Regions from separate parts of the Homo sapiens genome. Here region 1 is linked to region 2. Evidence: fine-mapped expression QTL. A gene starts in region 2. The other region holds a variant in brackets. All regions are shown on one strand. Distances are between the middles of the regions.

Region 1 (2,911 bases), 30 kb after region 2:
AGCTTATTTATTTATTTATTTATTTGATGTGGGCGGCAAGCCACCCAGGCACCGAGGCAAGAGACAGAGGACACGAGCTGTTCCAGTATAATAAAATATAAAACAAGAATAGTTATACCAGATATAGATCTTAGATATGATTATATATGAATATCATTAATCATTAGTTTGTAGCAATTACTTTTTATTCCAATATTATGATAATCCTCGCTCTATAATCATAGCCTAGGAAAAACCACGCCATACAGAGATAGGAGCTGAGGGGACATAGTGAGGTGTGACCAGAAGACAAGAGTGCGAGCCTTCTGTTATGCCCGGACAGGGCCACCAGAGGGCTCCTTCGTCTAGCGGTGACGCCAGCGTCTGGGAAGACGCCCGTTATCAGGGGGATCGTGGTCCAGCGGTAGCAAAGGTGTCAAGGAACAACACCCGCTACTTAGCAGACCGGGAAGCGGGGGGGGGGGAGGTCTCCCTTTCCCCAGGGGAGTTTAGAGAAGACTCTGCTCCTCCACCTCTTGTGGAGGGCCTGACATCAGTCAGGCTTGCCCGAAGTTATCGGGAGGCCTAACCGTCTCCCTGTGATGCTGTGCTTCACTAGTCGCACTCCTAGTCTGCCTTCATGTTCCATCCTGTACACCTGGCTCTGCCTTCCAGATAGCAGTAGTAAATTAGTGAAAATACTAATAGTCCCTGATATGCAGAAATAATGATGTAAGCTGTCTCTCTCTCTGCTTCCTCTCCCTCTCTGCCTCAGCTGCCAGGCAGGGAAGGGCCCCCTGTCCAGTGGACACGTGACCCACGTGACCTTACCTATCATTGGAGGTGACTCACATTCTTTACCCTGCCCCTTCTGCCTTGTATCCAATAAATAACAGCGCAGCCAGACATTCGGGGCCACTACCGGTGTCCGCGCATTGGTGGTAGTGGTCCCCCGGGCCCAGCTGCCTTTTCTCTTGTCTCTTTGTCTTGTGTCTTTATTTCTACACTCTCTCATCGCTGCACACAGGGAGAGACCTACCGACCCTGTGGGGCTGGTCCCTACATCGGGGCTGAGAGTTGACGAATGCCCCATTGTTTAGAGGGGCCTGGGGCCGGCCCCTCATCCTGTTTCCCTGATTTTTAAAAGGCCGTAAAGGATGGCCATCAATATCAAATCTGAAATGGCATTGAGATGCCCAGTGAAGACCCTTTTGGCATCGTGGGCATACAGTAGAAGGTGGGGCATCTTGTTGCTGAAAAGTTTTTTGTTGTTGTTGTTGGTGATGTAAAGGATGGCGACCTGCACGCCGAGGGCAATTTCTTTTTGCATGTCCATTCTGGCC[G/A]CATATGAAGCATTGGCCAGAGAATTGTCCAGGCATTCGAATAGAGGCCATAGCTTGTGCCATAATCATTGCTGTATGGAGAGTTCCTCCCACCCCTTCACAGGCTTTAATGTAGGAGGTGAGTATATCACCACCTGGTGGAATTTTACCTTTGACGGGGCGAATAGCCGCCTGACAATCTGGATTTGCTTGTTCATAAGCCATAAGTTCTACAACAAGTCTTTGGCCGTGGCTATCAGGAATAGCCTTTTCTGCTGCGTCTTGAAGATGAGCAATAAAGTCTGGGTAGGGCTCATGTTGTCCCTGTCTGACGGCTGTGAAAGATGGGCATACTTTACCATCATCTTGAATTTTGTCCCAAGCATCTAAGCAACATTTTCGCAGTTGTTCAATAACCTCATCATTTAGTATAGTTTGGTGTCGGATTGCAGCCCATTGACCCATTCCCAGTAACTGGTCAGCCGTAACGTTAACAAGAGGATTAGAGCCCTGATTAAGACGAATGCGTTCCTGGACAGCATCAACCCACCAAGTCCTGAATTGTAAATATTGGGATTTAGATAAGACTGATTTTGCCAAAATTTCCCAATCATAGGGTACCAAACGTTTATCTTCTGCTAAGGCTTTTAATGTGGAATGGACAAAAGGAGAGTTGGTGCCATATTGTTTCACTGATTCCTTAAAATCTTTGAGGAATTTAAAAGAAAAACTTTCCTATGTAGCAGGGCGTAGCTGAACCTGGCCTGGATGGATGGTGTCAGGCTGAATTACCGCCTGAACAGCGGGAATGCCAGGTATTGGCTGTGCCCCAGGAGCAGGCAATTGCAGAGCCTGATTATTTACCCAAGCAGCCGATTCTCAGGCTGAGGGGCTTAATTGTCAGCCTCTTGATCTTGTTGAGCTGTGGGGTCAGCCGCCTGCTGGGCAGGATCAACAACAGGCTGTGGGTGGTTTTGTACTGCTGGGGTGGCAGGTACTGGGGGTTGTAAAATTACAGGAAATTGCCAAGCTTCGGGATCCCCATATTCCCTTGCCTGAACTATAGCCCTCGTAAGCAGAGTGTCATCTTCAGGGATGTATGTAATTTGTTGCTTATGAGCGGCAATGGTAGTATTGGCAACAGCAGTTGCGACCAGACCAGGAGCAGAAAAAGAGGTAGAATTTTGAATAGAAGGAGAGTCGAAAAACTGAAAGCCAGGGTGAGAGCAGATTACCTGCTGAGCAGGTCTTTCATGGGCCTGAAAACCAGGCTGCCACGGCAAGTGTGAACCAGGCTTCAAGGGAGCCTGTGACTCTAACTGAGTCCAATTTGTAGGAAAGGATCCAGGCTTCAAGGGAGCCTGTGACTCTACCCGAGTCTGATTTGTAGAAAAGGGACCAGGCTTCAAGGGAGCCTGTGACTCTAACTGAGTCTGATTTGTAGGAAAGGATCCAGGCTTTAAGGGAGCCTGTGACTCTAACTGAGTCCGATTAGGAGGAAAAGAACCAGGCTTCAAGGGAGCCTGTGACTCTACCCAAGTCTGATTTATAGGAAAGGAACCAGGCTTCAAGGGAGCCTGTGACTCTAACTGAGTCCGATTTGTGGGAAG
Region 2 (2,911 bases):
TTGCTTGAACCCGGGAGGCGGAGGTTACAGTGAGCCAAGGTTGCGCCACTGCACTCCAGCCTGGGCAACAGAGTGAGACTCAGTCTCAAAAAAAAATTAGCCAGGTGTGGTTGGTGGGCATCTGTAATTCCAGCTACTCAGGAGGCTGAGACAGGAAAATTGCTTGAACTCCAGAGGCAGAGGCTGCAGTTAGCCAAGATCAAACCACTGCACTCCAGCCTGGGTGATAGAGTGACACTCCGTCTCAGAATATACATTTTAAAAATATATATCTAAAATCCTTTTTTGAGGGGTAGGAGGATGGAGGTGGGATGTATGTTGCTATTGCACTGGCCAGCAGAACCTTGAGAAGTGGACTGATTAAAAAAATGTAGGCCTGGCATAGTGGCTAACACCTGTAATCACAGCACTTTGGGAGGCAAAGGTGGGAGGATGGCTTGAGCCCGAGAATTCGAGAACAACTTGGTCAACAAAGCGAAACCCCCGTTTCTACAAAAAAGTTAACGGGGCATGGTGCGTGCACATGTGGTCCCAGCTACATGGGAGGCTGAAGCAGGAAGATCGCTTGTGCCTCGGAGATGAAGGTTGCAGTGAGCTGTGTTTGCGCCACTGTGCTGCATGCAGCCTGGGTGACAGAATGAGACCCTGTCTCAAAAAATAAAATAAAATGGAATGCAGATCGAAATGTTCAATATAGGCTGTCCATAATCTCCTACCTCATACCCTGAACCAAAATATTGCTACTCTTGGTTAAGTTCAGAAAACTGAATGCTGAGTTAAACCATCCGTTCCTAGCCTTGAACATACAAAACCAACATTAACAGTATTTATGTATTTACTATTAATTATAAACAACTGTGAATTACCCAATGGTTGCTATTTGCCAATATATATCTAGATTAATTATTATTATTTTTTGAGATGGAGTCTTGCTCTGTCACCAGGCTGGAGTGCAGTGGCAGAATCTCGGCTCACTGCAACCTCCCACTCCCTGGTTCAAGCGATTCTCCTGCCTCAGCCTCCCGGGTAGCTGGGATTACAGGCGCGCGCCACCACGCCCGGCTAATTTTTGTACTTTTGGTAGAGGCGGGGTTTCACCATATTGGCCAGGATGGTCTTGATCTCCTGACCTCGTGATCCGCCTGCCTCGGCCTCCCAAAGTGCTGAGATTGCAGGCGTGAGCCACCGCGCCCGGCCTAGATTATTCTCACTTAATTATTACTAAGGTCTGTATATAATTTCTATTTTATAAATTAGAACACTAAGGCTCAGAAAAGTGGAGTGAGTTGCCCAAACTCACACAGTGAAGCCGGGATCAAAGCTAATTACAGTACTGTCTAATTTTAAAATCTATACTTCTAAGCATCTGGCTACACTATATCTCTAAAAGTTTTACGTAGTTCAAATGTGAGCAGCGTTCGTCTACGCAGAAAAACTGAATAAGCAGCATTAACCGCGGGCAGAAACAGAACAGAAACCACTACCTTGGCGGCCGCCCGCCCCCGGGCGTCGCCTACGTCATAACACTGCGCGGCCGCCCCTCGCGCACCACGTGCTAGGGGAGCGGGCGGGCAGATGGCTGTGTCTGTAAGCGGGAGGCGTGCCCGGTTCATCCAAGGCGCAAGATGGCGCTGCTTTTTGCACGTTCTTTGCGCTTGTGCCGCTGGGGAGCCAAACGATTGGGAGTTGCCTCCACAGAGGCCCAGAGAGGTAGGATTATCTCTTTTTACTCTTTTACCTCCAGAATGGCTGCCGTCTATTATTCCCAGACCCCACTCCGAGAAGCAACTCCAACCCTCTCGGGTCTTTTCCTTCCCCACCTGCCTTGGTCTTAAGATTCCAAACCTGTGATACCATTTGGTTTCTTTAAATTCCGGGACTTACTCAATCCGAGTTTTTCAGCTCCGTGAGCTATCCGTAGTAAAGCGACCTCGCGACTCTCTTGCCCGCTTGGCATTCTGACTCTTCCCTAGTTGCTCGTGTATCATGGCTGCCTGCCTCATATCTGAATATATCACCAGCCCTAGGGTTCTAGCCCCTGTTATTATCCCGTCTTTTTGCTCTGCCCGCAGGCGTCAGTTTCAAACTGGAAGAAAAAACCGCCCACAGCAGCCTGGCACTCTTCAGAGATGATACGGGTGTCAAATATGGCTTGGTGGGATTGGAGCCCACCAAGGTGGCCTTGAATGTGGAGCGCTTCCGGGAGTGGGCAGTGGTGCTGGCAGACACAGCGGTCACCAGTGGCAGACACTACTGGGAAGTGACAGTGAAGCGCTCCCAGCAGTTCCGGATAGGAGTGGCAGATGTGGACATGTCCCGGGATAGCTGCATTGGTGTTGATGATCGTTCCTGGGTGTTCACCTATGCCCAGCGCAAGTGGTACACCATGTTGGCCAACGAGAAAGCCCCAGTTGAGGGTATTGGGCAGCCAGAGAAGGTGGGGCTGTTGCTGGAGTATGAGGCCCAGAAGCTGAGCCTGGTGGATGTGAGCCAGGTCTCTGTGGTTCACACGCTACAGACAGATTTCCGGGGTCCAGTGGTGCCTGCCTTTGCTCTCTGGGATGGGGAGCTGCTGACCCATTCAGGGCTTGAGGTGCCCGAGGGCCTCTAGTATGTCCATTACTGGAGTCCCTAATCACGCCTTTGGCCAGCCTCCTTTTGAAAGTGTCCGAAGCCTTTTTACTTTGCCTCAAGCAACCTCTAGCTCCCACAATTCAGTGTTGGGTCCTCTGTGCAATATCATGATCATCTTCCTCATCCCCTACCTTGTGAAAGCTAGGCATACAGCCAAACCCTCCTTTTCCCCACCCACCAACTACTGCCAATTTCCTAGGCTACCATGGGTGTATCTTCCTTGACCTGCTTCCTTCAGTCCCTCTGCCTCCCTTTGCCCAGGCCTTTCTCAGACTGT

The links.
Region 1: its variant is fine-mapped to the expression of SPRYD4 in whole blood (TOPMed, PIP above 0.99). The same link has a PIP of 0.9 or more in esophagus mucosa, lung and monocytes.

Annotation. Positions count from the first base shown.
Region 1 is chr12:56,496,543-56,499,453 of GRCh38, forward strand. No RefSeq gene overlaps it. Among named protein-coding and RNA genes, the nearest start is that of GLS2, 9.8 kb to the left of the region's middle. The variant G/A (reference allele first, on the strand shown) is at 1,323.
Region 2 is chr12:56,466,967-56,469,877 of GRCh38, forward strand. It overlaps SPRYD4 (SPRY domain containing 4), which reads left to right and starts at 1,612. Exons shown (of 2, transcript NM_207344.4): 1 at 1,612-1,710; 2 at 2,073-2,911. The coding sequence starts at 1,626. The coding sequence ends at 2,611. RefSeq lists enhancers at 1,280-1,349, 1,360-1,539, 1,860-1,909, 2,330-2,459.